7 linked regions of the Homo sapiens genome follow. The protein of the gene in region 3 interacts with the protein of the main gene of each other region in a pairwise test. Each region holds a gene or a part of one and is shown on either strand. Other genes may lie near its edges. The genes, in order: IQCC, INPP5J, HSF2BP, USP20, COIL, PAK6 and ZNF844.

What was found.
Region 1: the proteins of HSF2BP (region 3) and IQCC interact in binary tests that used the Homo sapiens proteins (3 or more experiments, as listed by UniProt).
Region 2: the proteins of HSF2BP (region 3) and INPP5J interact in binary tests that used the Homo sapiens proteins (3 or more experiments, as listed by UniProt).
Region 4: the proteins of HSF2BP (region 3) and USP20 interact in binary tests that used the Homo sapiens proteins (3 or more experiments, as listed by UniProt).
Region 5: the proteins of HSF2BP (region 3) and COIL interact in binary tests that used the Homo sapiens proteins (3 or more experiments, as listed by UniProt).
Region 6: the proteins of HSF2BP (region 3) and PAK6 interact in binary tests that used the Homo sapiens proteins (3 or more experiments, as listed by UniProt).
Region 7: the proteins of HSF2BP (region 3) and ZNF844 interact in binary tests that used the Homo sapiens proteins (3 or more experiments, as listed by UniProt).

The regions. Positions count from the first base shown.
Region 1 is NC_000001.11:32,204,278-32,208,470, reverse strand, and holds the start of IQCC (IQ domain-containing protein C), read right to left. Parts: upstream 2,801-4,193; 5' UTR 2,790-2,800; coding exon 2,748-2,789; coding exon of another isoform or gene 2,508-2,747; intron 2,318-2,507; coding exon 2,174-2,317; intron 1,963-2,173; coding exon 1,710-1,962; intron 1,470-1,709; coding exon 1,351-1,469; intron 1,232-1,350; coding exon 389-1,231; 3' UTR 1-388. Other genes in the region: CCDC28B (coiled-coil domain-containing protein 28B), read right to left, coding at 3,673-3,873, 4,092-4,193.
Region 2 is NC_000022.11:31,125,966-31,129,465, forward strand, and holds part of INPP5J (phosphatidylinositol 4,5-bisphosphate 5-phosphatase A), read left to right. Parts: coding exon 1-45; intron 46-328; exon of another isoform or gene 329-410; coding exon 411-524; intron 525-647; coding exon 648-756; intron 757-955; coding exon 956-1,072; intron 1,073-1,391; coding exon 1,392-1,567; intron 1,568-1,809; exon of another isoform or gene 1,810-1,985; coding exon 1,986-2,097; intron 2,098-2,248; coding exon 2,249-2,358; intron 2,359-2,505; coding exon 2,506-2,689; intron 2,690-3,500. UniProt on the Homo sapiens protein: Inositol 5-phosphatase, which converts inositol 1,4,5-trisphosphate to inositol 1,4-bisphosphate.
Region 3 is NC_000021.9:43,628,489-43,631,988, forward strand, and holds part of HSF2BP (heat shock factor 2-binding protein), read right to left. Parts: intron 1,967-3,500; coding exon 1,834-1,966; intron 1-1,833. UniProt on the Homo sapiens protein: Meiotic recombination factor component of recombination bridges involved in meiotic double-strand break repair.
Region 4 is NC_000009.12:129,876,958-129,880,457, reverse strand, and holds part of USP20 (ubiquitin carboxyl-terminal hydrolase 20), read right to left. Parts: intron 2,121-3,500; coding exon 2,018-2,120; intron 886-2,017; coding exon 814-885; intron 346-813; coding exon 185-345; 3' UTR 169-184; exon of another isoform or gene 1-168.
Region 5 is NC_000017.11:56,947,551-56,951,050, forward strand, and holds part of COIL (coilin), read right to left. Parts: intron 3,447-3,500; coding exon 2,339-3,446; intron 2,218-2,338; coding exon 2,131-2,217; intron 1,885-2,130; coding exon 1,837-1,884; intron 1-1,836. UniProt on the Homo sapiens protein: Component of nuclear coiled bodies, also known as Cajal bodies or CBs, which are involved in the modification and assembly of nucleoplasmic snRNPs.
Region 6 is NC_000015.10:40,245,563-40,249,062, forward strand, and holds part of PAK6 (serine/threonine-protein kinase PAK 6), read left to right. Parts: intron 1-3,500. UniProt on the Homo sapiens protein: Serine/threonine protein kinase that plays a role in the regulation of gene transcription. The kinase activity is induced by various effectors including AR or MAP2K6/MAPKK6.
Region 7 is NC_000019.10:12,071,231-12,074,730, reverse strand, and holds part of ZNF844 (zinc finger protein 844), read right to left. Parts: intron 701-3,500; coding exon 574-700; intron 371-573; coding exon 310-370; intron 1-309. UniProt on the Homo sapiens protein: May be involved in transcriptional regulation.

The sequences.
Region 1 (4,193 bases), on a different chromosome or scaffold from region 3:
CACCACGCCTGGCTAATTTTTATATTTTTAGTTGAGATGGGGTTTCATTTCACCATGTTGGTCAGGCTGGTCTCAAACTTCTGACCTCAGGTGATCCACTCACCTTGGCCTCCCAAAGTGCTGGGATTACAGGTGTGAGCCACTGCACCCGGCCCCTTATCCACAAATTTGGATTGAGCTACAGGCAGAGGATTGAAAATGTGTCCTTCCTCCTTCCCTATACTCATGCCAGCTCTCTGCTCCAGCTTCTCTTGGCCCCACTAGTCACCAATGGCCAGGGGCAGGAGCAGAAGCCAGAGCTGGTCAGGGAGGTAGGATGAGGTCTTGTCTCACTGCCCTTTCATAGCATTCCCCTTTGGAACCTGATCCTCTCCTGGCTTCCTAGGGTCTAGCCAGGTGGTTCTGTTTTCCATGGCCTGCCCCTCCACTGTTCCTCTCCTGTACAGCCTGCCTTTGTAGAAGACAGAATCTCAGGTGACTTTGATCTCCATGGTATAGTCCTCTGCTTTTTCTGTCCTTCATGACTAGGCTCATTGGAGGTTCCATCTCTGGAGCTTCTATCAGTGGGGGCCTGGCCTTTGGGTGGTTTAGTCCTCCAGAGATCGAGGACACTATGCTCTGGCCCCCCCAAGGTACCATCCCAGATGATGTGGTCCTCTGAGAGGCCCAACTCTTGTGTCCTGACTGTTCGGCAGTCAGGCTCTTTGTGGTCTAGTTTTCTGGGAGACATCTCCTTAATATTTGAGTCCTCATAGAGTGCAGACAGCTGTGTCCTGGACTTCCTGGGACAATGGTTCCTAGGTTTTAAACCTCTGGGGGTCTGGTCCTCCAGGATTTTCATCTGCAGCAGGCAGGTCCCTCCAAAGGTCTGTCTTCCATCGTCTGGCCCTTTGGTGAGCCTGTCCCCCAAGGCCTGGCTGTTTGATGGTATAGACGACGGTGGTCCAGACTTGCTGTAGCATGGTTCTCTGCACTTAGCCCCAGCAATGTTTTTTTGTGTAGTGGCCAAACTTCCTGGGGATCTGTGGGGTGATTTGACCCTGTGACAGGAGTCATCCTCCTGTTCTAGCTCTCCAGTGGTCCTGTCTCTGTAGGACTGGTCCTCCAGTGGTGCGCTTGGTTGTGACTGGTCCCTCTCACAGGCCTGTTCCCCATGTTCTAGGAACACGCGGGGTTCCTCTCTGATCGGGCCCGCCTCTGGGGATCTCAGTGTTTGTTTAAGAAGTAGGTACTGTTGGGGGAGAGAACATACATTGTACCAAGCAGGCCTGCTTGGGCATGGCAGGTCGTCTCTCCCTAACCCCCACCCTTGACCCTAAATGTTCAGAAAGAGTTCCAGGTTAGTGTTACCTCCTTACGGCTATTGATGGCCTGTTGCAGCCACAGCAATTCCATGGCCAAGTGGCTGCGGTGGTACTGAAGCTCTTGAAGCTGAGGTTGGCTGTGGGGCAGTCTTTGATCTGTGGCTTCTGTGAAGGAGGGAAGAAAGGAAGGAGAAAACCTTGAGGGACCAGACCCTGGGAAATGGCCTAGCCTTAGACTTTGGAAACTCCCTCCCCTGCACTGCCCAACCATGTGGTGGCCCTATCCCGGCAGAGGGAAGACGGGAAAGGGATGCAGCTTATCTAGCGCAAGCCTTTCACTCTTCAGATGGGAGGCTGAGGCACAGTGAGGGTCAGGGGCTTGCCCTGATCTTTGCAGAGAGGTACCTGGATTCTCCATCCTTGTCGTGTCTCTGGTCTTCTCTTGGCTGGGTTTCCTGTTCTGCTTCATCTGAAGCCAGGAGCTGTGATCTCTGCAGAGGCTTCCTTGATTTGCTGAGCTCTCTCCTGACTTCTTCAGCACCATCTCCTCCCAGGTGGCCTCTCCCTCAGACTCTTCACATGGGAAGTGGTTCCACAGCCCCTGCTCTGGATTTGCTACCCTGTCTCCTGCTTTCCAGGTCTGATGGGATTTTGCCTTCTGAGAAACAAGAGAGATGTGAGAGCCCCAGGGCTAAACCCTTCCAAGTATCTGGGCACCATGATCTAGCAGACAAGTTGGTGAGGGTTAAGGAGTGGGGTGTGAGGAGGTGAGTCTACTGCCTCTTCCAGTGAGAAAAGCTTATCACTGGGAAGGGTGGGTTCCACCCTGCCCAAGTCCCTCCTTCCCTTCTCTCCTAGGTGTGTTCTACCTCTGGGAGGAATCGCGGCCTGGGAATGCGGCCCTCGGTCCACTGAAGCGTGCCCAGGTCGCCCTCGACCTCTCGTACAATCGCCTCATACTCAGCTCGCAGGCTCTGGAACTGGCGTCGGACCAAGAAGCCCCGGACGCAGGCCTGGTATGGAGAACGAGAGGAAAGAAGTCCCTTATCACGGTAAGAGAGGGGGCATCTCGGAGGACTGTCCTGAAGAGGTCGTCCCGGCGAATGCAAGAGGGGACCTGACGGCGGGGAAAGGATAGGTGGGCTGTGCGCTAGGGCTCCGGGGGGCTCGAGGGACGATGCCAGACTGGATGCCCCTCCTCGCCTTAAGGCTCTTCCCGTTTCCCTGATCCGGCGCGAGCGTGTGGTGGGAGTGGGGACGCGCAGGGCAGGGAGTCCGTGGGTCCCAGCTTTCCTCAGCGCGGTTGGGGACAGCCGGTATCTCCAGAGGTTGGCGCGCAGTTAGGGGACTGAACGTGGTAGCATCTCGCTGGGAGGTCCAGGTACGAGACCCCATGATTTCCCTAAAGGAAAAATCCTGTGAACCCCGCGCCCGCCCCCGCACCTGCAATGCAGACACCTTCCGAACCAGCAGCTCTGGCTCCATGGGCGCCAACTGCCAGGCCCGCCCGCGCGCCTGCGAAGTACGTCATTGGTCGGCGTCGCTCCTGAGCATGCGCGGGCGTGGGCTTTGCCCCAGCCGTTCCCACGGCAACCTCCTACCGTCCAGGGTAGAGGCGTCCTGGCGACAGGCGTACCTGCGTCCCCCCAGCCCCCGACTGCCCCTCCCACAGCCGCAAGGGGCACTCCAATCCCGCAGGCGGTACCTCCATAACCGAGGGCTGTCTCCGCGGAGACCGGGAGGAAAGGCGCAAGGAGGGGAAGCAGGACACGGAGCCGCTTGCTTTCTTTCTGGTTTAATTCCATTCAACGCCCCCCTCCCCCATAGCACCTGGGGGGCCGCAGAACACCCGCCCGAGTCTGTAAAAAGTCACAGTTTGAAGAGAATGAGAGGGGCAGTGTGGGCCTGCGTGGGACGCCTACGCAGCGGACTGCTCCTCAGGCTCGGCGTTCTCGGCCAGGTGCAGCTTCTGGCTGTGCCCGTCAAGGATCGTGGCGCTTTGGACCAGTCCTTCCTCCCACCCCGGTCTCCCATCTTGCACAGGTTTAGTTCCCTCACCTGTGCAAAGGGCCGGGGACGAGGGTCTCGGGCCGTCTGTGGACTGAGGTTGCAGTCCCCGCCTGCCCTCTCTCACCCCCTCTCTCTTCATCCAGATCGTGCAGGTCAGACACACTGGGGTGTGTGCGCGCGCACTCGCGCTGTTTCTGACTGAGGACCAGGTGAGGTGGTAGTGTAAATTAGTAAAAATAATTGTTCAATGCTGAAAGGATAGGAGGACATCGGACAAGCTTTGCTATGATTGATGTCAGCTAAAGTACTCACAAAGATTTTGATCAGTAGTAAAACATCCCCTACAACCACTTTTCTTCTAATTTTGGGGAAATTCTAAATTCCTGTACCTGGGTTTGGGCAGTCTGTGGCTAAATCTGACAGGACTGCAAGAGGTGGGGAAGTTGGTTGTGTGTGAATACTCCTGGAGGGCTGGAGAGGAGGAAACTGACCTCTCAGGAACACACACACATAGACGGGTTCCTTGGAAAGGATACATAGAATTACTGAGGTCTTCCAGCTGCCAACAAAGAGAAAAAGGGAGGCTTCTGTTAGGAGGGGAACCAGGCCAAATCCCCAATGCTCTGGGGGCTATCTTCTGGGGAGGTTGAGGGGCCCAGAGCTCTTGGATCCATGCACTCCCACCTTTTCACCCAGGGCCCAGGAATGGCTTTGGGAGTATGTACCTTCTCCACCCCTCATGCCCCCAGGAACCAAAGCACCCAGACATGAACCCACATTGCTAAGCAGCTGGTCCAGGTTACGGTCAGCCATTGTCTTCTTCTGCTCCTCTGGCAGCCCCTCAGTGACCCCATCCTCTTCCTCTTCATCGTCCTCCTC
Region 2 (3,500 bases), on a different chromosome or scaffold from region 3:
CCCTTGGTCAGCTCAGCCTACCTGGAAGAGCGACCCCGGCTTCCGGTGAGGGGGCCCTCTCCCAAGAAAGGTGGCTGGGGCTTAGCTCTGAGGTTAGCCATTCTTCCAGGGTGGATGGTGTGCTCTACCTCAGCTTCTCTCTCTGAGGAAGAGTCTTTGGGGAGGGGGTTGCTGGGCCCACTCTGTGACGCTCAGAAGATAGCATCCCCTCCTAAGGAACTTGCCGCCTCTCAGTTGATCTCCCCAGGGAGAGTGTGGCAGAGGGACAGGATTCGGGGCCTCCTGTGGGTCCTTCTTAGGGCTTTGGCCCACACCTGCCTCCATTTAGTTCCCCAGGGAGTCCTGTGAAAGGAAGCTTGAGGGTGAGGGAGTGGTGCCAGGACTACACCCTCATATGCCCCTGCCCTCAGGATCACTGTGGTCACATGGAACGTGGGCACTGCCATGCCCCCAGACGATGTCACATCCCTCCTCCACCTGGGCGGTGGTGACGACAGCGACGGCGCAGACATGATCGCCATAGGGTGAGGTGGCAGGGCATGTGGACCCCCTCCTGAGCCCCTCGGGCCTTCCGGGCCCTCCACCCATGGCAGGGGCTTCCAGGGCACCTCTCCAATCCCATGGCCACCCTGCCCCCACCCCTCCAGGTTGCAGGAAGTGAACTCCATGCTCAACAAGCGACTCAAGGACGCCCTCTTCACGGACCAGTGGAGTGAGCTGTTCATGGATGCGCTAGGGCCCTTCAACTTCGTGCTGGTAACGCACCCCTCACCCCCTGGACAGCCAGAGACCCTGCTGAATTCCTGGCTCCAGCTGTACCCTGGCTCACTGTGGGGCCCGCTGGGCCTCTGTGGCTGGGTCCGTGACATGGGTGGGTGGAGGAGCAGACCTGAAGGTGGGCGCGAGGGCGGGGGAGTTGTGTTCTGTCCCCCAGCCACGTGGCCTCCCGCTGCAGGTGAGTTCGGTGAGGATGCAGGGTGTCATCCTGCTGCTGTTCGCCAAGTACTACCACCTGCCCTTCCTGCGAGACGTGCAGACCGACTGCACGCGCACTGGCCTGGGCGGCTACTGGGTGAGCCTGTGAGCAGGCCCAGAAGAGGATGGGACATGAAGGGGGCTTTAGATTAGTCCCCCCGCCCCATGCACAGCAAGGTCCCCTTCCCATCCTCCACCCTTTACCCTGCGGCCCAGCCCCCCCATGCACCACCCAATACCCCATCCTATTCCTCTATACCCCCGCCCTTTTCTCTCCCCACTGTGTCCCAGCGTTGTTCCTCATTTCTGTAGGACCCACCCACCTTCCACCCACATCTCCTCTCTAACCCCCGCTCCCAGTGCCTCACCTCCTGGCCTAAGCCCCGCCCATGAGCCATCCGACCCTGCCTCCCTAGGGTAACAAGGGTGGCGTGAGCGTGCGCCTGGCGGCCTTCGGGCACATGCTCTGCTTCCTGAACTGCCACTTGCCTGCGCATATGGACAAGGCGGAGCAGCGCAAAGACAACTTCCAGACCATCCTCAGCCTCCAGCAGTTCCAAGGGCCGGGCGCACAGGGCATCCTGGATCATGAGTATGGGCTGGGGTGGGGCCAAATAGAGCTTGGGTGGGGCTAGTGATGGGGGTTTTTGTACCACCTTGGGTGGGGCTTATGGAGAGAGGCAGGGCCTATGGGGTTTAGTGCCCACCCAAACTAGTTGTAGGAACACGAAAGCAGAGAGCAGTTGGATGGGGAGGGGCGGAGCTTGTAGGGTGGAGCTTTGCTGAGGGGCCCCGCCTTGCTGAAGGTCAGAACCTAATTTCCTGTAGACCGGTCCCTCTGCTTTTCCTCTGCCCTTTGGTGGGCTGGAGGCTCTGGCACCACTCACCCACTCACTACATCCCCTCGGGTTGGATGGGCTGGAAGGATCTGGGCTGAGCCCTTATCCTCCATGGACCTGTTGACACCCCCCACTGCCCCCCACATCTCTCCCATCCCCCACCCCAAACAGCCTCGTGTTCTGGTTCGGGGACCTGAACTTCCGCATTGAGAGCTATGACCTGCACTTTGTCAAGTTTGCCATCGACAGTGACCAGCTCCATCAGCTCTGGGAGAAGGACCAGGTGGGGTCCTTGTCCCCAGAAGCACACAGAGCATGTCCCAGGACACGCCTGTACCTTAGACTATGGTCCCTGTCCTCACCTGCCCCACCCCCTCCCTGGGCACAGCAGAGCCCAAGCTGTTGTCCAATCTGCTCTCCTGGACCCCCCACAGCTCAACATGGCCAAGAACACCTGGCCCATTCTGAAGGGCTTTCAGGAGGGGCCCCTCAACTTCGCTCCCACCTTCAAGTTTGATGTGGGTACCAACAAATACGATACCAGGTGAGCTCAGTCCGAGGAGGGACTGAGGGGAAGTGGGCTGAGGTCTTCTCGAACAGGGAGACTTTGGGAAGAGGGGCAGGAGGCAAGGTGGAGGGTTACATCTTGATCCCCAGCCCCTGAAACTTGGGGTACCCCTGCTCACTGCAGTGCCAAGAAACGGAAGCCAGCTTGGACAGACCGTATCCTATGGAAGGTCAAGGCTCCAGGTGGGGGTCCCAGCCCCTCAGGACGGAAGAGCCACCGACTCCAGGTGACGCAGCACAGCTACCGCAGCCACATGGAATACACAGTCAGCGACCACAAGCCTGTGGCTGCCCAGTTCCTCCTGCAGGTGAGTTCTGGCCTCATCCTCCCCGCATGAAATCCCCAGGCCCAACTCGGCATACCACTGCCCCTCACCATTACCCTTTGTATAACCCCTTGTACCTGCCCTCAGCAGCATCCATTTGTTGTAACAGTGGAAATGGGGTTGCAATCTACATTTTCAGATGAGGAAGCTGAGGCTCAGACACATGGCATCACCTGCCCAGGGTCACCCAACTAGTAAGAGGAACAGTTAGGATTTGAACCCAAGTGAGTCTGGTTTCAGAGCCCATGCCTTTTCTTTTTTTTTTTTTTTTTTTTTTTGAGACAGAGTCTCATTCTGTCACCCAGGCTGGAGTGCAGTGGCACGATCTTAGCTCACTGCAAGCTCCGCCTCCCGGGTTCAAGTGATTCTCCTGCCTCAGCCTCCTGAGTAGCTGGGATTACATCACCCGCCACCACGCCAGGCTAATTTTTGTATTTTTAGTGGAGACAGGGTTTCACCATGTTGGCCAGGCTGGTCTTGAACTCCTGACCTCCTGATCCACCCACCTTGGCCTCCCAAAGTGCTGGGATTACAGGCGTGAGCTACCGTGTCTGGCCAACTTTTTTTTTTTTTTTTTTTTTCTTTGAGACGGAGTCTTGCTCAGCCGCCCCAGGCTGGAGTGCAGTGGCACAATCTTGGCTCACTGCAACCACCATCTCCTGGGTCCAAGCGATTCTCCCGTCTCAGCCTCCCAAGTAGCTGGGATTACAGGCACCCGCCGTCATGCCCGGCTAATTTTTGTATTTTAGTAGAGACAGGGTTTCACCGTGTTGGCCAGGCTGGTCTTGAACTG
Region 3 (3,500 bases):
GCAGAAGAAAAGCTGGAAGCTAGTACAGGTTGCTTCATGAGGTTTAAGGAAAGAAGTTGTCTCCATAACATAAAAACAACGTGCAGCAGCAAGTGCTGATGGAGAAGCTGCAGCAAGTTATCCAGAAGATCTAGCTAAGATCACTGCCGAGGGTGGTTACACTAAACAAGAGATTTTCAATGTAGACAAAGTCGCTTTCTATTGGAAGAAGACGCCATCTAGGACTTTCACCGCTAGAGAAAAGTCAATGCCTGGCTTCAAAGCATCAAAAGACAGGCTGACTCTCTTGTTAGGGGCCAATGGTGCGGGTGACTTTAATTGAAGCCAATGCTCATTTAACCATTCTGAAAATCCTAGAGCCCTTAAGAATTATGCTAAATCTACTCTTGCCTATGCTCTAGAAATAGAAAAACAAAGCCTGGATGACAGCACACCTGTTTCCAGCATGGTTTACTGAATATTTTCAGCCCACTGTTGAGACCTACTGCTCAGAAAAAAAGATTTCTTTCAAAACACTACTGTTCATTGACAATGCACCTGGTCAATCAAGAGCCATGATGGAGAGGTACAAGGAAAGTAATGTTGACTCCATGCCTGCTAATACAATACCTATTCTTCAGCTCATATATCAAAAAGAAATTTCAACTTTCAAGTCCTATTTTTTTTAAGAACTACATTTCATAACGCTACAGCTGCCATAGACAGTGATTCCTCTGATGGATCTGGGTGAAGTAAACTGAAAACCTTCTAAAAAGGATTCACCATTCTAGATGCCATTAAGAATATTCATGATTCAGCCAAGCGCAGTGGCTCATGCCTATAATCCCAGCACTTTGGGAGGCTGAGGTGGGCAGATCACCTGAGGTCAGGAGTTCAAGACCAGCCTGGCCAACATGGAGAAACCCCATCTCTACTAAAAATACAAAATTAGCTGGGCATGGTGGCGCATGCCTGTAATCCCAGCTACTTGGGAGGCTGAGGCAGGAGAATCACTTAAATACAGGATGTGGAGGCTGCAGTGAGCCGAGATCACGCCGTTGCACTCCAGCCTGGGCAACAAGAGAATATTCATGATTCATGGGAGGAGGTCAAAATAACAACATTAACAGGAGTTCGGAAGAAGTTGATTTCAATCCTCATGGATGACTTTGAAGGGTTCATGACTTCAGTGGAGTAAGTAACTACAGACGTGGTGGCAGAAAAAAAGGATAAGTTGCTTCTTATGGAAGAACAAAGAAAGTGGTTTCTTGAGATGGAATCTACTCTTGGTGAAGATGCTAAGACATTGTTGAAATAAGAACAAGAGATTCAGAATATTACATAAACTTAGTTGACAAAGCAGCAGTAAGGTTTGAGAGGGCTGACTCCAATTTTGAAAGATGTTCTACTGTGGAAAAAATGCTATCAAACAGCATCACATGCTACTGAGAAATCTTACATGAAAGGAAGAATTAATCAATGTGGCAAACTTCATTGTTCCTTATTTTAAGAAATTGGCACAGCCACCCCAACCTTCAGTAACTACCACCCTGATCAGTTAGCAGTCATCAATATCACGGCAAGACCCTCTACCAGCAAAAAATTGTAACTTGCTGAAGGCTCAGATGATCATTAGCATTTTTAGCAATAATGAATTTTCTAATTAAAGTTTGTACATTTTTTAGACATAATGCTATTGTACATACAACAGACTACAGTATAGTGTAAACATAATTTGTATATGCACTGGGAAACCAAAAACATTCATGTGACTCATGTATTATTGCAGTATTTGCTTTACTGCAGTGGTCTGGAAGCAAACAGGCAACATCTCTCAGGTGCGCCTGCACTTACTCGTGACAATTCCAGCCAGAGCGAAAACAAACTGACTTTCATCCGAATCCAGCTCCTGGACATCACCGTCTAACGACTTCACAAAACTCTCCATTGTTTGACCAGTGATGCTGAAAAACTTCAAAGCTTTATCCTGAAAGTTTGAAAATCAGAGTGTCATATCTTTTTACAGACACTAGTGTGAAAACATTTTAAAAGTGCAGGATACAGAAGATTCTAGTTTTAATTGTAGAATATTGTAAAATCTATTCCCTCATTAAAAGTTCCCATTAAAAGAACAGAGAAAGCAGCTTGAGGCATGCAGGAGCAACAAAAACTACCCTGAAGATTGGTGGACTCTTCACACGCATAAATATGATATAGGACAAATGTACATGATGATGAAAGTAAATGGGAAGAATTCACTCAAAATGTAATAAAAATATACTAGAAAAACATGCTGCCTATTTGCTCTGGGCATTAAACCAGAGGTGTTCAAACCTTTAGCATAACTTTTTTCAAAAAAAAAAATCTTAATGAAAACATGTAAAAGAGGTAAAGACTGGCTCCTCTGGTAGTTTAAATCTTCATCACTTGGCAAAAAGCATTTCCAAGTTTGAACCTTTGAGTTACTTCCTTTGGGGTGCTAGAGTTCTGAAGAAGAATTTTAAAACCAATGTACATTTTAACCCAGTTAAAAAATTGGAAATATTTGCATTTACAAATGATATAAGAAAACTTCATGGATGATCAAATAATCTAAAACTGGGTTGTGGTGATGGTTAATGCAACTCTAAAAATTTGCTAAAAACCACTAAATTGTACATTTACAATCTTACAGTATGTAAATTAAACCTAATAAAGCTCAACAAACTTTTAAAAACACATTTAGTCTTTCCACCTAAAGTCAAACACAACTGTTATTTCTATTAGCAGTAACTAATTTCTCACTGGTTTCCTGCCACACGTCCCCCTCTTCACCTTCATTTCCAGTCATGATCACGCCATGCTCCCAGAGTCAAACACCGATCTTTTTTGGCTCCTCTTGTCCCCTCCAGGTGCCCACTCTGCCCGGCCATCGCATCTGCCTCAACTGCCACAGCTCTCATACATGTTCCTTCTTTCCCATCTCCCCTGCAGAGGGCCGAGCTCACTCCAGCCAGACCAGCTAGAATGACCACCTCATCAGTCATCCTGTGTAGACGCGATGTGCCACAACTCCACCTCCTAATCCATCCTCACCCACTGTCAGGTGAATCTTTCTAAAATTCTGCTCTTATCCTATCACTTTTATTGAAAAACCCTTAGGGAAAATCCAGTCTTCCCACCTACAGAATGAATCACCAACCTGGTATTCAAGGTCCCAAAGTCACATCCCAACCTACGTTTAAGCTTTACCTCCCCACTACTCTATGACATTAACTCTCCACTGTGTCAACTGACCTACTCACTGTCCTAAAACAAACCCACCCATTTTCTGCCATTTCTACCTATTCATCAAGGCCCATTTCAAATTTATCCCCTTCTGTGAAGTTCCCTGACAAATGCCTGCACGCATGCATACATGTGCGTGTGCACGCTCCCACACACACACATGCTCCCACACACCCACACGCTCCCACACACACGATCCCACATACACAGGCTCACAGGCACACACACTCCCCCCCCACACACGCTCCCCACAC
Region 4 (3,500 bases), on a different chromosome or scaffold from region 3:
CACGGGCACTCAGCAGTGGGGCCGGGCCATGTCCAGGGCCCTCCCACATCCTCCAGGAAGGTGCTTTCAGGGACCTGCTCTTTGGATGTTCAAAAGGACATGTGAGGGTCTCTGGAGAGTGAGGAGAGGACCCAGAGTGCCATGGAGGGACCAGCCGGGGCGACTTACAGACTAGCCCAGCAGATCACACGGCCCGCGTCTCGGCTTCGATCTTCTGCTCCCCGTGCAGGTTCTCTGGGCCCAGCGGCTGCGCCACACTCTGGCGGATGGCAATCTCGGGGCCACCTCCATACAGGCTGTTCAGGTAGGTCCAGGTCTCCTCCGAAATCTGCCCGTAGTCAGCTCCTGCAGGGCACGAGAGGCACCCCTAGGCTCACCTTTGCCTCCTCAAGGAAGCCACCGGCCTGGGCAGTGGGGGCTCCGCAGGGCCAGGCCCCGAAGCGGGAAGACGGCAACCAGGGCTTCTATGCAAAGCTGTCAGATGGAAATCAGGATTTCCCAGAGGAATGTCCATCCCGCTAAGGGCCCCGGATAACACATCTCTGGCTGTGTCCCTTGTTCCTGGGGGTGGGGCTGACATAAACAGCAGGGTGGGCAAGGCCAGCAGCAGGCAGAGGGGTGGGACCTGGAGGACACAAGCAGAGACCAAGCCCCTTGGGCCATCTCTCAGCCGCCTGGGTCTGGACTCAGGTGGACGTCTCAGCCTGACTCTAAGACAGGTGGTAAGGGGGCTCCTGGAAGGACGGGACTGGGCAGCAGCCTGGCAGCCAGGAAGGGCAGAGAGGAGCCTGGCTGACCCCAGGGGGAACTCACCCTGCTTCAGCTGGACATGGCCGCTTCCTTTGACCTGTGCAATCCTGCTGTTGTCAATGGGCCCGGGGGGCTCTGCAACAGACACAGCGGGCTCGGGTTCAGCCCCTGCCATGCCCTCCACCCTCCACAGCAGCAGAGCCATCCCAAGTGGGGCCGCCCCAGGCCTGGGGGTCAGCGTGAAGTCTCTAATGGATGAGGCGCCTGAGCCACCCAATGCTCCTCTGTGGCAGTCTGAGGACCCAGCAGAGGGAATTTCCAGGACACACGAGATGGTCTCAGACTCTGTGCTGGCCGCAGGAGCTGCGGTGGATGGCCCATGCCCTTATCTCTGCTGGCAGCTGCCGCTCACCACGCCCCTTCCCCTCTGCCCAGCTATCTCATTTAGCCTCGGCAACCACAGGACAAGACAGAGGTTTACAGAGACAGAGCCGAGGCCTGGGAAGGTGAAGTAACCACTCAGGTCATAGCTGGTAGAAGGCAAGGCCAGCGTCCAGGCCAGGGCGAGGGCTCCGGAGCTACATTCTCAACCACAGCCATGCTGAAGGCCTCAGCCACCACCAGAGAGGCCTCACGGTGGCCCTGGCACCTTCCCCGACTAGCGGGATGGCAATGAGGCCTCCCTTCCCAAGCACAGGTGGGTGCTCATGCTCCACACCAAGGGTCCCGTGAGCAGAACCGTGGGCTCTACCCACCCTGCCGGGCCCCGGAGCCACAGGTTAGATTATGCCCCGAGGGCGCCCCAGCCGAAATTTTTAATGCAGGTTTAATAGTTTAGAGCCTGTGGGCTTCCATGGCTTGGTTCTGCTGTTCTTCACTGGGGACTTGGGGGACCCTGGGAGCTTGTGATGGGGCCTGTCTCCACCTCTGTAAATCCAAGGAGTCAGATGACAAATCTGTCATTTCGGGCGACACACTCCCCTGAGGAAAGGGCCTTGCAGGAGGGCAGAGCAGCTTGCTGGGCATGGCAGGGAGTGGAGAAGGGCAGGGGGCGCAGAGCAGGAGCAGCTTCCTGCCTCTGGGTGGGGACAGTGATCCCCACTGGGGACTGGCAAAGCCCCATGCTCTCTGTTCACCCTGGATGGGTGGCACCTGGGGGCAGGCATGGGGCCTGCAGGAGCCCCTGTGTGCCAGCCCTCCCCTGCCAGCATCCCATCTCCCAGGAGGCCCCCAGGGCAGGTAAGTGCCAGGTCCCCCCTCAGCTCACCGTTGTCCTTCCCCTTGACGAACGCCTCCCACTCCCGGAACCACTGCATGCTGATGCAGTAGATGACGCCCGGCGACTCCTCGGCCTGGAAGGCCTTGTTCAACTGGCAGGCGGGCAGGGACGGGAGGAGACAGAGGGCAGGTCAGTCTCTATTTACCTTCAGCAAGGATTTCCCAAATGCCCCCGCCCCAGTCCCTCACCCAAGAGTCTTACAAAAACACCAGATACTCAAGGTGAAAAATCAAACCCCCAGACAAGCTCAAACAAAATGAACACACCCATCACTCAGAGAGGACGGTGGTAACATTTTGTGGGTCTCTTCAATAACTGTTTGACCCAACTGAGACCACAAGGGAGATTCTACTTTTTGAGAAGGAATCTCACTCTGTCACCCAGGCTGGAGTGCAGTGGCGCGATCTCGGCTTACTGCAACCTCTGCCTCCCAGGTTCAAGCGATTCTCCCACCTCAGCCTCTTGAGTAGCTGGGATTACAGGTGTGTGCCACCACCTGGCTACTTTTTGTGTTTTTAGTAGAGACGGGGTTTCGCCATGTTGGCCAGGCTGGTCTTGAACTCCTGACCTCAGGTGATCCGCCCACCTCGACCTCTCAAAAGTGCTGGGATAACAGGCATGAACCACTGCGCCCGGCCTGGGAGATGCTAATTTTCTCCGGTTGAATAGAATGTGCCTATCTGCTCAGAGAGGCAGCTCTCCTTCTGACAGGAGCATTTTCTTTTTCGAGATGGGGGGTGGTCTCACTCTGTGCCCAGGCGGGAGTGCAGCGGCGCAATCATGGCTCACTGCAGCCTTGACCTCCTGGGCTCAAGTGATCCTCCCACCTCAGCCTCCTGAGTAGGTTGGACCACAGGTGCATACCACTAGGCCCAGCCCTGACAGTCTCTTTTTCGTTTGTGTTCTGAGACAGGGTCTCACTCTATTGCCCAGGCTGCGGTGCAGTGGCATGATCACGGCTCACTGCAGCCTCAACCTCCCAGGCTTAGGTGATCCTCCCAACTCACTCAGCCCTCCAGGTAGCGGGGACTACAGGTACACATCACCATGCCTGGCTAATTTTTGTATTGTTTGTAGAGATGGGGTTTCGCCATGTTGGCCAAGTTGGTCTTGAACTCCTGGGCTCAAGTGATCCACCTGCCTCGGCCTCCCAAAGTGCTGGGATCACAGGCGTGAGCCACCATGCCCAGGCAGCAGAATCATTTCCTAATGGCCACAAAGCACGGGCGTCCCTCAGTGTCTCTCACCAGGCCCTCCCTGTGAGTGGAACACGTCCTAACCCTGTTAGAAGTAGCGTGGCAGGGAGGGAGTGCGCCAGGAGCCTCGCCTGCACTCAGCTCCCTCACAGAAGTCCCTCTTCTAAACACAGTCACACTTGAGTCCTGGTTTGCACCTTGGTTTTCACTTCCTGCTTTATCTTGGGCAGTCTGTAGAGCCCAGTGGTTCTCACCCAGGGCAGGGAGGGTACTCT
Region 5 (3,500 bases), on a different chromosome or scaffold from region 3:
ACCCCCACCTACTGCGTTCAAGTGATTCTTGTGCCTCAGTCTCCTGAGTAGCTGGGGCTACAGGTGCACGCCACCATGCCAGGCTCATTTTTATATTTTTAGTAGAGATGGGGTTTTGCCATGTTGGCCAGGCTGGTCTCGAACTCCTGACCTCAAGTGATTCACCTACCTTGGCCTCCCAAAGTGCTGGGATTACAGGCATGAGCCACTGTGCCTGGCCATTAATAAGCAATTTTTAAAAATCAGTATCATCTAGAATTACAATTTATAGAGGTTGTGGGATGTATCAATACAATATTCATTTCCATTTCCTCATATATCACACAATTAAATGTTTTCTATGGTAGGGTGACAAAACACCCTGGTTTGTTCAAGACAGGTCTGTACATCTTTCCAGCATAACTATTAATAGCATCCCTTTGACTCACAAGTATCCTGATTCAGGTGATAAATTACATGATCACCTCATCCATAGGAGATAGTAAGTGCCTAAGAAGATAAAAAACAAAACACCAACGACCTAGAACTAACCCACCAGATCCCTTCATTAACTGATTCTTCCAGCCTGCTTTTGAGGAAAGATTTTTTTTTTTTTTTTTTTTGAGATGGAGTCTCGCTCTGTTACCCAGGCTGGAGTGCAGTGGTGTGATCTCAGCTAACTGCAAGCTCTGCCTCCCGGGTTCACGCCATTCTCCTGCCTCAGCCTCCTGAGTAGCTGGGACTACAGGCACCCGCCACCATGCCCCGCTAATTTTTTTTTTTGTATTTTTACTAGAGACGGGGTTTCACTGTGTTAGCCAGGATGGTCTCAATCTCCTGATCTCGTGATCCACCCACCTTGGCCTCCCAAAGTGCTGGGATTACAGGTGGGAGCCACCAAGCCCAGCCTTGAGGAAAGGTTTCTATAAAGATTTTAAGTCTTCCAAGGCATCAATCCAGATTAAATCAAATTCCCTTGTATTTTATCTATGTTACTATATTAACACTACCAATTATTACCTTAAAAAATGGTCTTACATTCCATATAGTACATCAAAAAAAAGAAAGAATGCACTTTAACAAGATTTTCAACAAAATGTTGGTGGGTGAAAAAGAAACATGTAATTCTGTGATCCCTCTGACTGAGTCAAGCTTTTACTGAACTATGAAAAACCTCACATGCCAATATAAAGACTCATACAGATATTAAGTAAGTAAATTCCACGGATAATATTTATGAATTACCTGTGGTTACCTGATAATGCAGAAGAAATCATACTAGATCATAACAACCAGAAGTAATTCACAAATATGTAAAATAGATTCCCATGATGAAAATAATCAAATCTTCTTGCTGAGAACTATTTATTATTTTCTTTCAAAGTTTAGAATCATGAAGGAATGAATACCCAAATAAGTTGGTCTAAACTAATTAGAAAAAAGTAACTAAAAAAATTAAACTGGCTGGGCATAGTGGCTCACACCTGTAATCCCAACACTTTGGGAAGCCAAGATGGGGGGATTGCTTGAGCCAAGGAGTTTGAGACCAACCTGGGCAACATAGCAAGATCCTGTCGCTATTTAAAAACAAAAAATTAATATATTTTTTTTAAAAAAGTAAAAATTAAGCTCATCATTCTCCTACTCTATTCTTCCCAAGTATAAGGCAAATAACACAGGGAGACTTCCCAGTGATACTATTAAAGAGTTGACATTTCGATTAATGTTTTCATTTTCTACTTTCTGGCATTTTTATTTAGTAAAAAAACAAATCTGTATTATCCATACAAGTAGTATTAAATATGACTTTAGTTTTAATAATACACTGACAACTTACTTTTAAATAAACATCCTTACCTTGTAGTCAGAGACATCAGGAGAGTAACTGGATGTTAGCTCCAAAAGCTAAAAAAGAAGAAAAAACCCACAAATACATAAGCCCTCTTATCCTCTCCCATTCCCACAGCTCCTCCATCATGCCATGTTGGCGTGTCCACCCCGACCAGTCTGGGAGCCCTACCAGGAACCCGTAACAACACTGGGGTTCCAGTGGGAAGGGCTTTTACAAACACATTTAACCTGATTTTCTAAGTAAGTTTATTTGGAAGGGGAATGAACCTTTTTTGCTGTGACTGTTCTTTTGAAATATACCTTAAATGCAATCTTTTCTCCAACTTGAGGGGCAGCTGCTAACAGTGGTAACAGACTATAGTCCTTCTTGGGTGTCTCTACTGGATTCTGAAAAACAGTGTTAGTCATGTGACATCATCACTGGTGAGAAAATGTGAATCCATGACATGAACTCCACACACATTCTAAGGGGAAAGGGAGGAGATAACTTACAAAAAATAATACTTACCTGGATAATAGTAGATGAATTTTTTACCACGTCATTTAATTGCTGTTGCCTCTGGTTGTCAGTGCTTCTATTTACAACACAGGAAACAGGATGCCCTCGTCCTCGACCTCTCCCCCGCATGCCCCGTCCCTTAGCTCCCTTCCAAGAAAAAAGGTTCTCTTCTCTACCCCATCCTCTTCCTAAACTAGCAGGGAGAGACACACTGGGAGAAGCACCAGGAGCCTGTCCACCACCATTTGAGCCAGAACGCCTCCATCCAGCAGCACCTGCAGTCTGTGATGACAGCCCTGGGCCTGGACGACCTCTTCCTGCAAAAAGGCCTACTGTCTTTAAGAAACCCGCAGCACACTCCGGGGTGCTCGATGACATCAAGCATTGGTCGTCTGACTCTGCACTAGAGTCTGAACTGGAAGATGTTGTTCCAGAGGTCTTGCCCTTGCTGGGGGTAAGGCTAAAGCCAAGTTTTATAGCCAGTTTGTCTGCAGTTGTATTTTTGGTAGAGGGTTCTTCCTTTGATAACTCAGTTGGTAATTTCTCTGAGGAATTTCTGGCCTCCAAAGTGACTTTGCTGGGACCATCACTGATAGATTCATCACAAGATTCAGACTCCGAGGAGGAACTGGGACTCTCTTTTGAGCAAACGCTTACACTACCTTTCCTTTTGGCTTTAACAAGGCTGTTTCTAGCAGAACCTTTTGGAGAACTACATCTCTGATTGGCCCAGTCTTTCACTGCCTGTACTTTCGGAGACTTGGGATTCTTAGCCTTTTTTTTATATTCACATTTCTCCTTTTTCTTTGGTGATTTTCTTTTGGCCTCTTCGTTATCATCACCCACTGTGCCACAGGTTGCTTTATTTTTTCTCTTGTTTTTTTTGCTGACAGTCTGATCTGTGACAGCTTTTGGTTCCAGATCCAAGACCTTCTCATTATTGTTATTGTTCTCTCGACTCTTCCAATGCTTCTTTGAATATTTGCAATCTGGTTCAGTTTCTTCACCCTCCTCTAACTGAAATGCCCGCTTCTTTGCTTTTCTAAGAGATAAATTAATGTCACCATTACTGATGACTACAGAATTCTCAGCAACTCCTCTCTCTTCTAATTTAACTCTGTCAAAAGAACAAGAGAGAAAGCTAGAGTGAGCAATTTATAAACACATCTCC
Region 6 (3,500 bases), on a different chromosome or scaffold from region 3:
CTCAGATCAGCAAAGAGGAGCTCTGAGGAGGAAAAGGCTGCCCCAGGAAAGAGCTGGCCATCTCAGATTGCTGTAGCACATTCAAGCCAAAGGGAGTCCCCGGAGGATGTTTCGTCCAGCCCCCATAATTTTAGAGCGGGAAACAGAGGTCCAGAGAAGGAAAGTGGGTCCTGAGGCCACACAGCTAACTAATGGCAGAGTCAGTTTCCAGCCCAGGGATCCCCAGCTGCCTGCCCAGCACTCTTGCTACCCAGGCTGAACCCCCACCCCCGTGCTACCAAGGGGCCCATGCAGGAGCAGGCAGCAGCCACTGGGTAACTTGATGGCTTGGGAGAGGCGGCCTGGCCTGACACATTGGGAGGCTGGGCAGGTCCCCGCTTTGCTCCTATTGTGCTATTTGGGTGCCTCCTGCCATCCCCCTGCATTCTGCTAGACCTGAAACCACAGCCCAGCCCACGCTTGTCAGTCAAGTGCTTCCCGAGGATAAACTTTGCACACAGCACCCAGGCCACTCTTGGGGACCAGGCCACTCTCTGTTGAAGAGATCTAACTAATTTATAAATTGATTGATTGAAGTTCTTTTTGTCCCAGGTAACTTCATGTCTTAGGCCAAAGAAGGGAGTCATGATGAGTGCCAGAGATGAAACGGAGATTCTGGGGCAAAGGGTAGGGGAGGCACCTGGGAGGCCCTGTTCTTCAGGTGATCTTCTCATTAGTGTAGACTTTTGACCCCAGGCAGACATTTACATGTCCAATAGCCACCATCAGAGGTCAGTTCCCAGAAGCAGGAGGCCTGTCACTTGCCACCGGTCACCAGGCCCAAGCTAGACAAGAAGACTTTTTCTATTCCACTAGAGTGGATCTTGCTGATGATGTGTCTGGGATCCAGAAAGGTGGGGAGAAGTAGAGGTCTCAGCTCCTGGGGAGGGATGGAGCCAGCCCCGGGGGAAGAATGCAAGGCCGCCAGTGAGCAGGCATTCAGGGCTCCTGTCGAGGAGAGGGTGGTCAGGACAGGAGGAGGGGCTGCCTCATGGATGATGAGGTCCATCATCCTAGCAGAGGCTGTTGTACCAGCCACTGACGAGGGTGTGGCAGTGGTGTTACCAGAACCCTGCTATGTCAGCGTTCAAATACATGTCCCAGCAGGCCAACCACCCCTGCAGCAGTCAAGGGGTTCTGTCCGGTGTGTGCCAGAATGCTAGGGAAGAGAGGACCCTGAGAAGGATGGCAGCATGGCACAGACACGCCATGTGGCAGTTAGACAGGTCATGCCTTCTGACCCAGGGCACATGCAGAGGTCCACAGACTCTGAGGCCAGCTAGTTAGTGTTCCCAGGGGGCTGCACAGCCCAGAGCCTGTGAGTTTTGTGCATCTGGAGCTAAGGTGTTCTGCCCAAAGTGTTGGAGGTGGGCCTCAGGCAACAAATACCCTGCTTCCTCACATCCCCTTTTCTTCCTTGGAGCTTGGGCCTGGGCCCTCACCTAGTCAGGCACAGGCCTCCACTCCCCCACACTCACCTGTCCTTCCTGAAAGTCAGCCACTGGGCTCCACGCAGGGGTGTCACAGTCAGAGCCCTGCTCCAGCCTCAGACCTGGGGCAGTCACTGGAAACTCAGAAGAGAGAAGACAAGACAATGAAAGTTTCCCATTCAAGGAGGCATCCAGCTGTTAGTTCTGCCAGCAAAAATGCCAGCCAGAGAGCTAAACTGCCAGCAAAAGATATTTGGATGGAACTTTGGAGGCCATTAAGAGCAGGCACTGCAAAGCAATTGTAGCGAAAAGATATTAAATGAATCCATCACGTCTCTAAAATGAGTGTCCTTACCACAGATCTGGCTCTTGCTGTTCCCCAGCCCTTCCCAGGGTAGCCCAGGATGCACCTGGGACGGGCGCCGCAGCCTGCAATGGTCCCTGCATCTGAGGAGCTCCTCCCAGGTCACCAGGCTCCTTGGGACTGTCAGGCAGGTTTAGCCCCCAGTGTCAGCTTGTGTTTGGGGAGGATGGTTTTATATATTCTCGTTGGCACAGGAAGCCTAGTACAGATGCAGAACCTGAGGGAAAGGCAGGCAGAGAGAGAGAGGCTCGAGGTTCTGCTGAGGCCCAGGGTATCAGCAGGGCACATCTGTACAGCAGCCGGGCGGGGACCCATGGACTTTTCCAAAACACCTAACCAGGCCCTAGACAGTGCTACCCCCTGGCGCTGGGCTCTCTTTCCGGAACCCGGGGTGAACAGACCTGTTGGGTTGATTTAGTAGCAAGTGGTAGCCTTGTTTTCTGGACGAATCCTGGGATTCTACTCCATGGCACATCAAACCAAGCTCCAGTGTGCATGCCCAGGGTCGGGGAGGGGAGCTTTCTCCTTGGTCCCTTCTGCAGCTGTGAGGGCTGAGGGTTAAGAACCTTTCACCCCGTTTGGGGGTGCTGCTCCTCCATAGCCCTGTACCCCAATGCTCTAGACTTCATTATTCCACCACCTTCCCCAGGGCGGGAGGTACTCTTTCCATTACATGCATCAGGAAACTGAGGCCAGAGACATGCTGTAAGTCTTGCGAGGCAAGAGGGCTCCCGTCCGCAGGACTCCATGGCTCTGCAGCTAGACTCCGTCAACTTCCCTCCTGCCTGGGGACCCCAAGGGCCTGGCAGTGTCAGCTCCCTCGGCTCACACTTCCAGATGCTCGGAGGTTCAGAGGTTTGCACCTCCCTCTTGGTCCCATCAGCAGAGAGAGATGGGTGGTCCCATCAGGGTGAGGAGCAGGAAGAAGCAGGTGCTGGACAGCCTGGAGGAGAGGGGGAGGAAGGGATTTTCTCCCAAGAGTGCCTCTCTCCCAGGCTTCGGGCTCCAGGGTGAGTGGGCAGCGACCCCTCTAGGAGCCCCAGCTCCACAGGGCTCCTCCTGCCAAGCATCCAGCACACGTGCCCCCACCTCCCCGGCAGGTCCTGCTTGAGGGCCTGAGGCGACTGGGCCATCTGGGTCTGTGAAGGGCAGATGTGGGATGCAGGAACTTCAGGCAGGGTGCTGGCTTGTGGCCAGGAAAGCCTAGCACCTGATTCCTAGCAGGGAACTCAGTGACAGAGTGGGGGAACCTGAGGGCCCCTCTGCCCCTCACACCCAGTGCCATGTGGGGGTCCTCGCGTGTTACACAGAAATAGGAAGGGACGGTCCTCCTACCCGCACCCCAGCCCTCTTGTGTCTCACGTGACAGCCTGCCTGGGCAGTGATTTTTTTAAAACACAAATGCCTTATATTAAGGTCTGAGTTGGTCTCTCCCCACTGCCCGTTCAAACATTCCATGGCACCAGCAGCCTCTAAGCAGCAGAGTTGAGAGAACCAGCTTTGGGGTCGGATACACTTCCGTTCAAATTCCAGCTCCTCCCCTCAGTAACTGGCTTACTTAGTCTTTCTGGACTGGATAACAAAATACTATGGACTGGTGGCTTATAAACAACAGAAATTTATTTCTCACAGTTCTGGAAGCTGAGAAGCCCAAGAGCAAGGTGCTG
Region 7 (3,500 bases), on a different chromosome or scaffold from region 3:
ACAGGTATATGCCACAATGTATAGCTAGTTCTTTGTTTGAGATGAAGTCTCGCCATTTTGCTCAGGCTCTTCTCAAACTCCAGGCCTCTAGCAATCCTCCCACCTCCAACTCCCAAACAGTTGAAATTACAGGTGTGAGCCACTGTGCCCAGCCTAGATCACATTTAAATGTAGGTTTTTAGAGTGAATATTTTAAGAGTAAATAAATTTAATGCTAGGCATATTTCCTTTATTTGCTTCTTCTTAACATATTCTCGCATTCTGAGATTTTCTAGAGAGACATTGCTTTGTCTCGTGAGTTTAAATCACCTTAGATTATTCCTGGGATTTTTGTACTGATCTTCAATGTTCTGGTCTTTCCATTTTTCTCCTAAAATACAGAATCAGAAAAAGAATCCTGAATTAAAATAAAATTATGAAAAAATGATTAGATTCTATGTTCACGGGACATTAGAGCCATACCTCATTTATTCATCAAAGTATTGCCTGTCCATATTCCAAATCAAGGAATAGCATTAATGAGCTAGAAACACTTGTCTCATTCACTGGGGGACGTAATACTGTCATTCTTACCTATGGAGGCCAGATTCCTCAAGGTTTCCTGCATCACTTCTCTGTAGAGATTCTTCTGGGAAGGATCCAGCAAAGACCACTCCTCCTGGGTGAAGTTCACAGCCACATCCTCGAAAGCCACCAAGTCCTGAAACATCCCACATGTATAGAGGAGGATGGGTGAGACTGACAGCACTGGGGGTCTATACCCTCTTCCTAAGAAGTTCCCATGATGCTGTGGACTCCAAACATTTATTCTATTTCTTGGTCATCTGACCCATTACTCTCTGTCTACACTTACTTTCTTCTCTAAAGCAATTCTGATGCTGGAACAGAACTAAGCAATAAACGAACAGCAGAATAGAAAAATGTGTCTTTTCATGGAATCCAGGGAGAAAGGTGCGCTGCCTGGGCTGCTCTTAATGTCTGTTTGTAGCATGGGTCTATAGCACCTGTCATAACACAGTCCTCTAAATTCACCTGCAGAAAATGTTAACATTAGCAGTCCTGAGGCTATATATCCTTGAAAATGCCTGTTCACAAAGTTTAACCATTGAAGATTACCTGGAAGGGGGATTTTATTCTGATTGAAGCAGCAGACAACAAAAGCAAAAAAAAAAAACTGGATTTTGCAAGGGGTTCAACCAACCCAACTGATAAGAGAGGCAGAACTATCTAAATAAAAAACTCATGAATAGAAATTTTGTGAAAAACAGTACTGTGGGCCGGGCGCGGTGGCTCACACCTGTAATCCCAGGACTTTGGAAGGCTGAGGCGTGCGGATCGCTTGAGATCAGGAGTTCGAGACCAGCCTCAACATGGAGAAACCCTGTCTCTACTAAAAATACAAAATTAGCTGGGCGTGGTGGTGTATGCCTGTAATCCCAGGTACTCGGGAGGCTGAGGCAGGAGAATTGCTTTAACCTGGCAGGCGGAGGTTGCGGTGAGCTGAGATCGCACCATTGCACTCCAGCCTGGGCAACAAAAGCGAAACTCTGTCTCAAAAAAAAAAAGCAGACTGTGGTAGGAAAACTTAAATTGTAATTGATGAAATGCTGAAGGCTGAATGGAGACAAAGTTCAGGGATAAAAACTCCAGTGCACCCACTCTTAACAAAAAGGCAAATATTTATCAAAATTTAAAAGTTCTGTCTATGAGGGGACACCATAAACAGATGGAAAAGGCACCCCATGATGCTGGAGCAAATATTGGAAAGTCATATATCTGGAAAAGTCTCAATATTCAGAAAATATAATGAATTCTTACATTCAACTAAAAAGAAAAGAAAAATCAAGGCCAGGCGCGGTGGCTCATGCCTGTAATCCCAGCACTTTGGGAGGCCGAGGTGGGTGGATCACCTGAGGTCAGGAGCTCAAGACCAGCCTGGTCAACATGGTGAAACCCTGTCTCTACTAAAAATACAAAAAATTAGCCAGGCATGGTGGTGGGTGCCTGTAATCCTAGCTACTCAGGAGGCTGGGGCCAGAGAATTGCTTGAAGCTGGGAGGCGGAGGTTGCAGTGAGCGTAGATCGCGCCATTGCACTTCAGCCTGGGCAACAACACTGAGACTTTATCTCAAAAAAAAAGAAAAAGAAAAAAGAAAAATCAAACCACCTCAAATATAAAGTTTGGAAAAAACGTTGAGAAATTGGAACCCATGTGCTCTGACCAAAGGATTGCAAAATGGCTCAATCTTTATGGAAAACAGTATGGTGGTGCCTGAAAAACTAGCAAAAAAAAAAAAAATTTTCTTCCAGCAACCCATTTCTGGGTCTATTTATATTCAATTCATATAAATTGAAAGTTGGATCTTTGAAGAAATATTTGAAAACCACTGTTCACAATAGCCAAGAGATGGATCAATCCAAATGTCCACTGATGGCTAAATGGATAAAGAAAACGTGGTATGCATGTACTTACAATGGGATAGTATTTAGTCTTACAAAATAACTTTCTGTCCCATGCTACAAAAAGCATGAAAATTCAGGATTCAGCTGGATGCAGTGGCTCATGCCCGTAATCCCAGCACTTTGGGAGGCCGAGGCAGAGTGGATCACGAGGTCAGGAGTTCAAGACCAGCCTGGCCTAGATGGTGAAACCCCATCTCTACTAAAAATACAAAAATTAGCTGGGCATGGTGGTGGATGCCTGGAATCCCAGCTACTTGGGAGGCTGAGGCAGAGAACAGCTTGAACCCAGGAGGCAGAGGTTGCAGTGAGCCAAGATCATGCCACTGCACTCCAGGCTGTGTGAGAGAGTGAGACTCCATCTCAAACAAACAAAAAAAAAAAAAAGAAAAAAAATTCAGGATTCTATACTGATTGCAAAAGGCCAGTCACAAAAATACAGTATTATTCATCTTAGACGAGTTATATAGATTTGACAAACTAACTCAACAGTACATGTAAAATTCCTAAAGCTAATAAATGTTAATTTTTTTACAATAATAAATTATTGTACCAAGTAAAAAAAAAAAAAAAACCTAATTGATTGAAAGATAGGGAAAGTATCTGAATGACATTCCTGCAAGATATATGAAAAGGGCCAAGAAGCTCATGAAAACGTCAGTGGACCAGGAGTCATCAGGCACAAGGATTTATATAATGTAGTTTTTAGTGGTTATTGAGTGCTTTCCTCTCATGAACAGTATTCATAAAGTAATACATTTTTAACCCATTTCCCATTTAGAAAAAAAAGTGCAGCTTGCTGCCAGCATTCATTGAATTTTACACAAGCATACTCTTTAAAGCTGAAGCAAATCTGATTGACTTTCAATGTGAAAATAAAATTTCTAAACAGAACTTGTTTCTAATCCTAATATAACAAAAACGTATATGATGTTACATTAGGATTAGAGACAAGAGTATTCTCGGGGCACATGGAAAATGGGTTGAATATACCCACCACTTATTGCTTTGTGGAAAAAAATGGTAAGCAATTAAAATAC